Homo sapiens: one gene and its partner. The protein of the gene in region 2 interacts with the protein of the main gene of each other region in a biochemical or structural test. Each region holds a gene or a part of one and is shown on either strand. Other genes may lie near its edges.

Region 1 (5,122 bases), on a different chromosome or scaffold from region 2:
GTGCAGTGGTGTGATCTCGGCTTACTGCAACCTCCGCCTCCCGGGTTCAAGCGGTTCTCCTGCCTCAGCCTCCTGAGTAGCTGGGACTATAGGCGCGCGCCACCATGCCTGGCTAATTTTTATATTTTTAGTAGAGACGCGGTTTCACCATATTGACCAGGCTGGTCTGGTCTTGGACTCCTGACCTCGTGATCTGCCTGCCTTGGCCTCCCAGAGTGCTGGGATTACAGGCATGCGCTGCCGCGCCCAGCCGAGACTTGATATTTTAAACCCTCTTCCTTGAAACCTTAAAGGAAAGGCAGAAATAGGAACTATTTTCAGCATGTGAGATACACAAACTAGTTCTTTGCTTTAATGGAGCGTATGATCCAACAGCTAAGACAGATAATAAATGAATAAATCAAATATTTTATTTCAAACAGGAGTCATGTGATAGAGTACCTGGGGGTGGTCCTGTTTCCTGTTAGATCATATGTTCTTGTGAAGATCTGGGGGAAGATGTTTCCAAGCAGAAAAAGAGCTCTGATATGGGACGGAACTTGGTGTGTTCCAAAACTGAAAGAAGTACAGCATGTCAGGCATGGAGTGAGGGCAATGAGTGCTAAGAGAAGGAGTCATAGGAGAGGTGGACTGGGGCAAGGAGCCTGAATCACACTGAAATGGCAACGAGAAATGTCCAGTTTTAAGCCAGGGAGTGATACGACTTGTGTTTTTAAACGACCCCTCTGGCCGGGCACAGTGGCTCATGTCTGTAATCCCAGAACTCTGGGAGGCCAAAGCGGGTGGACCGCTTGGGCCCAGGAGTTTGAGACCAGCCTGCACGACACAGTGAGACCCCATCTCTTAAAAAAACAAACAAAAAAACCCCTCTGGGTTGGGGGGCAGGAGGGATGAATAGGAGTCAGAGCACAGAAGATTTTTAGGCCAGTGAAACTACTCATATAATATAATGGTGGATACATGACATTACACATTATCCAAACCCATGACATTATACATTTATCCAAACCCATAGAATGTAAGAGTGAACCCCTAAGGTAAACTATGGACTCGAGGGATAACGATGTTCCAACACAGGTTCATCGACTGTAACAAATGAACTATGTGGTGAAGGATGTTGATGAGAGTGGAGGCTCTGCATGTGTAGGGGCAAGAGGTATACAGGAAATCTCTGTAATTTCTTCTCAATTTGGCTGTGAACCTAAAATTGCTATATTAAAAAAAAAAAAGTCTTAAAAAAATAAAAGACCCCTCTGGCTGCTCGGAGGAAAAGGACTGGGGTCAAGGGTGTCCTCAGGTGGCCCGGTTAGAAGATGACTGCAGCATGGGTCCAGGGGTGAGATGGCAGTGATTTTAACAAGGGCGGCTGCTGTGGAGGCGGGAGAACAAGGTGGAGGCTGGAGGTGGGGCCAACAGGACTTATTCCTGGATTTGGATACAGAGTGTCGGGAAAAGAGAATGAAGAGTGGTTTCTAGTTTTGGGAATGAGCCTTTGGGTGGATGGTGGTGCCATTTACTGAGACGGGAGGAGGAGAAGGAAAGAACTAGCTTGAAAGAGACATATCAAGGATTGCATTTTGTTGTGTTAGGTTAGAGATCCCTATAACGCCCCCACTGGAATGGTAAGGGGGCAGTGGGGCACATGAGTCTGGAACACAGCAGAGAAATCAAGGCTATGGACATAAATTTGGAAGGCAGAAGTGCATAAATGGTAGGCAATGCCTCGAGATAGTTGAGCTCTCCCTAGAATAGCCAAAAAAGAGGATCCAAGGACGAGTCCCAGGTCAAGAGCATAAAACAATGAATATCAGTTGTTGTTACTATTTTCAGTACATTGAGAAGGAGAATGTTGGCCAACTACTGTTACCAGCATCTTTTCATCCATCTATTTCCCCAGCCATGCTGCCCTCCATTCATACCGTGAACAATCACGGAGCACATTTACTAAAAGGCAAAAGAGAGTAGTGGTCCATATGCAAGCTCTAGAGCCAGGCTGCTGTGTGTAAATTCCAATTCTACCAACTCCTGGCTGTGCAACCTCAGAGAATTCCGTAACCACAATGTATCACCATTTTTCCATCACAAAAGGGGTTGTACTGTGTTGAATAGTAGCTCCCCAAAAGATATACCCACATCCCAAAACCTGCAAATGTGTCCTCATTTGGCAAAAGTGTCTCTGCAGATGTAATTAAATTAAAAATCTCAAGTTGGAATCATCCTGAATTATTTGGGTAGCCCTAACTCCAATGACAAATGTCCTTATAAATGAGACACACAAAGTAGAGACATGCAGACAAGAGAGAAGACACAGACACACAGACAAAGCAACGTGAAGACAAAGGCATAGACTGGGCTGAAGCAGTGCAAGGAATGTCCACAGCTCCCAGAAGCTGCAAGAGGCAGGGAAGGATTCTCCCCTAGAGCTTCCAGAAGGAGCACGGCCCTGTCAACACCTTGATTTCAGACTTCGGACCTGTGAAGAGGATACTGTGAGAGGATAAATTTCAGTTGTTTTAAGACAACAAGTTTGTGCTAATTTCTGACGGCAGCCCCAGGAAATGAATATGGGGTAATAACAGTATGTACCTCATCAGATTATGAGAACTGAATGAGCTGTATGTGGCAAGTGTCTAGAACAGTGCCTGCCAAATAGTGAACATTCAAATAATTTTAATTTTTACCCATGTACTAGGCATTGTACTGGATCCTGAAGAGTACAGGGGAAGAGGCAGTCTTCAGAGATCCTCAAGATAAAGACGGAGCCTGGGAAGCTGAGCAGGTGAGGGATCAGAAGGCGGGAAGTGTGCTCAGGGGCCGTGTGCATCTCCCAGGTGCCAAAAATAGTGGACTGCAGCTCCACAGCTGCCACCAATAAAGAAATCAATAAGCCTGACATCTGCTTAGGTTTTTAAAGATGAGCAGTAAGTCCAGAGAGGAGTTAATGCAATTCTTTCCAGTACCTTCCTCTCCTTGTGCCATCTCACTGCCTGCTCTCTCTTGGGAATCCACGCTGATGGGGACACTCGGAGCACATTTTCTGGAGACAGCTGTCCCTTCTTTCGGCCTAATGATACTGGGAATTAAGGTGGCCAGGGCGGGGTAGGAGTGGAGAGTGGGCAGTGGCAAACTGTGGAGGAAAGCTATGCCAATTTTGTATGCTGAGTGGTTTTGTAATAATATTTGCATGGCTGCTTTAGCCTTGGAAGTGAATTCTCTTCATCAGGAGACCCATATAGCACAATCTAGTTTTACCCAAATCTCCATAAAACACACTGTGCCAGAAAGAGGGTGTTGGGCGGGTGGTGGGGGGTGTTCAACTGAAAACACAGCTGAAATCAGACATTTTATAAGTGTCCATTGGCCAACACACAAAAATGTAGAGTTTATTGACATCTTGCTTTATTAAACAGAAAAAGAAAAAGAAACCTTCGTGCTCTTGGAGAGAGTGTATGATTCCATTTGATCACCTGCAAGCAAACATAAGCAGTGTCAGGAGCTACTTAGTGTTCATGACGTGGAGGGGTCAGGTTCCTGAAGACATTTGTGGTGGCTCAGTCCCTGGAATTCCTCAGGGGTAAGGGGCATTACTAGGTGTTCAAACTTGTACCCACCAACCCAAGATATTATGGCTACCCCAAAATACACTTGCCTCTCCAGTCTCCAGAAACAGAGTCTTCTGGAATACTGGAATTACAGTAACATCCCAGGACGTGTAAACAGGACAAGCCAGGTTCACCTTAGACAGGCATCGGAAACATGCTGGCCTTTGGTGAAAGGGACAAAAGAGTTGGTGTTTATTTTCTTCCGCCTAGGTATCCTGAGATCTCCCTAGGAGTGACAGTAGTGAGAAGGCCCCCCCGCAGTGCAAAGCTCCCTGACACCCTCTCTCCTCCCACCAGCTGCCTGGGGATGCCCGGAGGCCTCCCATGTAAGGCAGCCCAGTTCCCCACCCCCTTCCCCCTACTGAGTACACTGAGATCCAAACTTACCATCTCTCCCACCCTCCTCCCAGTACAACTCCCACTGCCTGAGCTGGCAGGTCCCAGCCAGGGAATTGACTTTGGGGTAGCCACAGCACAAAGCGTGCCCCTGCTCACGGTAGGAATACTAATTCTACACTATATGAGTGCTGCCTTTATTTTTAGCCAAGCAGGATGATGGCTGTCCTGAGGCCAGGACAACAGGGTCTGTTGTGTTAACTTGGATGATAAAGTCTAGGGCTTGTAAAGCCAAGTACTAGAGGTGTCCAAGTGTTGGTAAAAATGAGACCAGCCGGGCACAGCGGCTCACGCCTGTAATCTCAGCACCTCGGGAGGCCAAGGCAGGCGGATCACAAGATCAAGAGATCAAGACCATCCTGGCCAACATGGTGAAACCACGTCTCTACTAAAAATACAAAAATTAGCTGGGTGTGGTGGCACGCACCTGTAGTCCCAGCTACTCAGGAGGCTGAGGGAGGAGAATCACTTGAACCTGGGAGGCAGAGGTTGCAGTGAGCCAAGATCGCGCCACTGCACTCCAGGCAGGGCGACAGAGCAAGACTCCGTCTCAAAAAAAAAAAAAAAAAAAAAGAGACCAAGAGTAACCCCTCTGAAATCCATTTCGACTCCTGCTAAAACACCTCAAAGAACCAGTCTGGGGCATCACTGTGTTAAGGGCCAAATATGCCATGGACGCCCCTTCCTCAGGAAGCTGTTAAAACCATAGATCCTTAACTGGAATGAGCTAAGTTTATTCCTCCCTGAAGGCAAGAGATTGGATAATGCCCTTTCAAGGACTTGCAGATCCTTAAGAATTTGTGATTTTTTAAATCCTCCTGTGGATATCTAGGCATTTCAGGCTGCTTCTTAGACTTAAAAGACAACAAAACTTCCCCCATCTCCTTGCTATTATTTCATTCAGAGCTCGCAACAATTGTGTGTGCAAAATTAATCCTCTGTGCTGTGAAGTCGGTTCCCCCAATGCTGCTTCTCCAAAACCTCTTCAGGCCTCCTACCTAGAGGGCTTGATGAGCCCCAGAAACACTGTATATAAAAACATATAATCCAAGAATAACTTTGTCAACCAGGTGTTCAATGCTATCTGGTTTCATTCAATGGCTTCATAAAGAGAGTTGAGAATC
Region 2 (5,122 bases):
AACATATAGATACATAAAATGAATAACAGTAGTCACAGAGATGGGAGAGAGGAATTGGAAATATTCTGTTACGAGATGCCTTCATGATACATGAAATAGTATAGTGTTATTTGGAGGTAGATTTGTATTATTACAAATGTATATTATAAAACCTATGGAAGCTATTAAAATAGTTTTTTCAGGTATAAATGATATATCAAGAGAGGAGATAAAATTCAGTCATATAAAATGCTCAGTTAAACCCAGAGAAGGCAAAATGTGAATGAAAAAAAAATTAACAAAGAACAGATTTAACAAATAGAAAACAGTTACCAAGTATGTATTTTTCTATTCTTCCTTTCAGTTCTCACAGTTTTTGCCCCCTATATTTTGCTGCTCTGTTGTTAGGGATACACATGTTTAGAATCATTTGTTTTTGGATAATTCACTCTTTTTATCATTGGGTAATGCCCTCTTTATCTCTGGTTATCTTCATTGCTATAAACTCTGCTTTGTCTAAAATTAATATAGCTACTTCAGTTTTCTTTTGATTTGTGTTTTCATGGTTGCATAGTTTACATCTTTCTTCATCCCTTTACTTCTAACTTATCTGAGTCTTTATATTTTAACAGGATTTCTTGTAGATAGAATATTTGAGGATCTTTATTTGTTATCAATTCTAACAATTTCTGTCTTTTAACTGGTGTGTTTAGAACATTCACATTTAAAGTGATTATCAATATAGTTGGATTAAAATCTACCATCTTTTAACTTTTCTTTTGTGGTAAGCCTGCTGGCAGTAAATTCGTATATATGAAGGGAAAATTGAAGGACAAAAATTGAAAGACAATAAAGGCTTTCTCAAGTTATAGCTACAGCTTGAAATTTTACAGTCTTTCAGTTTTGTCAATAATTTTATTGAATACAGAATTCTAGGTTGGCAGGGGTTTTCTTTCTTTCAACACCTTAAAAAGTTCACTTTTCTCTCCTTATTTGCATGGTTTCTGATAAGAAGTCTGCTGTAATTCTTATATTTGTTCCTCTGTAGGTATTTTCTTCCTCTGGTTTTATTGAAATGTTCTTTTTGTCTTGGTTTTCTGCAATTTAAATATGGTATGCCTAGGTGGCTTTTCTTTGTTTTTGTTTTTGCTATTTATCTTGTTTGGTGTTCTCTGAGCTTCTTGGATCTGTGGTTTGATGTTTGTCATTAATTATGGAAAGTTCTCAGCCAATTTTTGAAAAAAATATTTCTTGTTTCCTATTCTCTCTGGCATTCTGGTCATGCACATGTTACACCATTTGATACTGTCTACAATTTGGGAAAGATCTGTTAATTTTTTAAAATTCTCTTTCTCTTTGCATTTCAACTTTGGGAGTTTCTATTGACCCATATTCATGTTCACTAATTATTTCCTCAGTGGTGTGGAGTCTACTGATGAGCCCCTCAAAAGCATTCTTTGTTATAATTTCCTTGATTTCTAGTATTGCTTTTTCATTCTTTTTATAGTTTCCATCTCTTTACTGACATTACCTATCTTGTTTTTATTTTTTGCTGCATCTACATCTTCTGGTAGATAACAACTGATTATCTTCCAGAGATGAAATTAATGAAACATTTAAATATCCTGCAAGTCAAAAACTTTAAAAATGTAATGTGTCTTCACCTTCCACTCCTAATTTAAAATGCTTTCCCTTTTTTTCCTCTTGTCCAAATTTCTTGATTGTAAAGAAGCCCTAACTCTTGGGTTTTATTCTCTCTCACATAGAAGGATTTACACAACAAGCCCTTCAGAAATACTGAGGCATACTTTAATCATGGGACATTTTATTTAGGTCACTCCTGGCAAGGTAGATGAAGACTTGAGCTTCTTTTTCAAATATAGTATCATATCAGTACAATTCCATATCTACACAAATTAGTTAGCAAGACAGGCTTTTAAACATTTGACTGTGGGGAAAATTATTGATGTACCTTTATATTATCCAGGAGCTTCTTTGTGGAGGTGTTGGGCAAACCATGTGGATCTGTGCTATTCACCATGACTACCATTGTGAGGTTCAGGCACGCACGCTGTGCTGTTATTATAACATTACAACAGTGCACAAGGAAAGACAATCCATAGCGAAAGGAACAGAAACCTGGAACTACAAAGTAAAACAGAAAGTCGCAATTGCTGACAGAGCTGAGATAAAAACATACTTTAACTATAGGAGGGACATTCAGAAATTTGGAGCCCTAGATATTAATTTAAAATTTTATTGTACTTAATGACCTTTGATAATTATTATATAATAAGAAGATGTGAGACTGATATAATAATACCATATTCTCCTTAAAATTGTATTTCCAGCTAGAAGTTCCAAGAAAATCAAGCCAATCTTTCAAGTTCTTTGGCTCAAGTCTATTTTTTAAAAGACCCTTTATAAATACCCTGTGTTACTCTTGGACATAAGTCCCCCTAATTACAACAAAGACATTTTCTGTCAAGAAAACTATTCCTTTTCCAACATTTAAAAAATACTCTGGTTGAAAGACTTATATATGCCCAATGCAGAGAAAAAAATGGCATTTTAAAAAAATGTAATTACTTATTGATATAAGCTAGAGTAATCAGTTGGTGTACAGCCAAACAAGTTCATTGATGGAAGAAAGTAGGGAGTCCAGAAACAGATACACATATATGGTTAACTTTTTAAAAATAAATGTACTAATGCAATCCATTGGAGGAAAGTAAAGTGTTTTTCAACAAATGGCATTTTTTTCAAGAGAAATACAGGTATATGTCTACAAAACAACACATACAGAAATGTTTATAGTAGATTTATTCAAAATAGCAGAATGTTTGGAAAGAATGGACATATCATGGTATGTTAATACAATGCATATTACTCAGAAATAAAAGGAAAGAACTACTTATACACAACAATTTGGATAAATCTGGATGAATTTCAACAAAAACATGTTCAGTTAAAGAAGCTAGATACCAGACAGTATATACTATAGGAATCTAGTTTTATGAAGTTCAAAAACAGGCAAAGTTAATCTATATGGCCCCCTCCATCTCCAAAATCAGCAATGGGAACCTACTTTATGTTGAATCCCTCTCACACTTTGAATCTAGCTACTCTGCCTCTGACCTGTACAACCAGATTTAAAGGGCTCATGTGATTAGATCTCTCCTAACTGCATAATTTCGCTATTTAAGATTAACTGATTTGGGACCATAATACATCTGCAAAACCCCTTGAAGCAGCACCTAGCTTAATGTTTGCTTAAATAACTGGGAGAAAGTGTGTATACACCAGGGGCTGGGAATCTTGAGAGAAAACTTAGAATTCTGCCTACTACAGTCCACCATCTGGCCCTTAAAGACTCATGTTCATTTCACGTGCAAAACATATTCACCCATTTCAAGCTTCCCAAATTCTTCATCTTATTACATTATCAGCTCAAGTTCAAAACCTCATCAAAATCTCATAGCACAAAGTCCAAAATCTCATCATCTAAATCAGGTGTGGAAGAGGGGCCTATGATTAATCCCTCCTAGGGCACAATTTCTATCTGTGGGCTTGTGAAACTAAAGAGACAAGTTATATGCCCCTAACACTTTTACCACGTAATGGTGGAACAGGTGTAGGATAAAGCTATAGACATTCCAGTTCCAAGGTGGGAAAAATAGAGGAGAAAAGGAGTCATCGATCCATAAAGGTTCTGAAGTTCAGCCAGGCCAATGTTGGATTTTTCATAAGGTCTGGAGATAATTCTTGTGGCTCTTGGCTCCACCCTCTGGGCTTTGGGCTGTATCCTCTGTGCTCATTGTTCCACCCAAGAATAAAACAGGGGCCAGGGAGCTTGGGTGCCATCTTGGAATTCTGTCTACTGCACATTCATAGTTAACTAAGAATTTTTTATTGCAAATAAATATTAATATCATAAATAAATAGATTTTTTATATCTATTGAGATAATCATACTGTTTTCCTCTTTCAATTAATTTGTGTGGAGTGACATGTATACATTTTCTAACATTAAGTTACTCTTTTATTTTAAGAATAAACCTGACTTAGTGTTGGTGGTTGCTTTTTTAATGTTTTTATAAATTCTTAGATTTGTTTTGTTCTGTTAATATTTTATTTAGGATTTGGTGTCTTTATAATTTTCATAAGACTATTTTGCTTTATATATTGGAAGCTATTTTATTAGATAATAAATATTTTACATCATCTTACCGAATTGAATTTTATATCATTTTGCAACATTCTTATAGAATCGTTTGAACTAGCAAAAGACTGTAAACAAATTAGATGTTTATAAATCAGTGACCATTTAAATAAATTATAATATATCCATCCATACCAAAGTCATTTGCAGCTATAAAAATGCTAAGGAAAATCTCTGCCAAAAATTGTGGAATACTCTTTAGATAAACTGTTAAATGAAAAAAAGCATTAGTACCCAACAAATAGTTGGCTAGTTTTCTGGCCAACTGAGCTTCCGTTGTTAAAAGATAAGAATATTAGATAAAATATGCTTAAAATAAACCATTTTTTTAAAAGCATGGGTGATCTAAGAGGAAAGATGAAATATTCAGGCCAAGGGCTTAGTGAAGATGGGGGCCTCAAAACATAAGTTGGGCCTTGAAGTCAGATGTTTCACTGTGGACTTTTGATCTTGGGATTTTTGGCCTTCCATGATATGGGGACAACAGGAATCAAATACCAAGGTCCTAGCGATGCGATAGTGTATAGTAGGAGACCCTCTCCTAAAATGCTTGGATGTCAAAGATTTACATGGTTCAATGGAGGATGAACACATTGCCCCCTTATCTTGTCAGTGGACTGCCAAGAAATTTTGTGCCATATGAACTTAAGAGCTGAATAGAAGGGGGTAAAAGAATACCCCTGAGAAATTTAATCATCAGCCAGCCCTTCCTTTGATTTGCTGCCTAAACTCAGTATCATAGGGAAGTGAATGGATCTAGAAAGCTATCAGAAACTTTGTAAACACACCTGCAGGAGTCTCTACATGGTAAAAGGGAAGTCATTGTCACCATGTCAGAGAAGGGCTCATTGTCTTAGTCATTTAGGGGTATGCTTTTGAGTTTTACTCATTTCTCTCCTCCACATTGCTCCAGGAAGTCCAT

Evidence for each region. The genes of interacting proteins can lie anywhere in the genome.
Region 1: the proteins of SLC17A1 (region 2) and PDZD2 interact in a test that uses a peptide from one of them, tested with the Homo sapiens proteins (one large-scale study listed by IntAct).

Annotation. Positions count from the first base shown.
Region 1 is NC_000005.10:31,644,783-31,649,904, reverse strand, and holds part of PDZD2 (PDZ domain-containing protein 2), read right to left. Parts: intron 1-5,122.
Region 2 is NC_000006.12:25,824,510-25,829,631, forward strand, and holds part of SLC17A1 (sodium-dependent phosphate transport protein 1), read right to left. Parts: intron 2,125-5,122; coding exon 1,952-2,124; intron 1-1,951. UniProt on the Homo sapiens protein: Important for the resorption of phosphate by the kidney. May be involved in actively transporting phosphate into cells via Na(+) cotransport in the renal brush border membrane. Plays a role in urate transport in the kidney.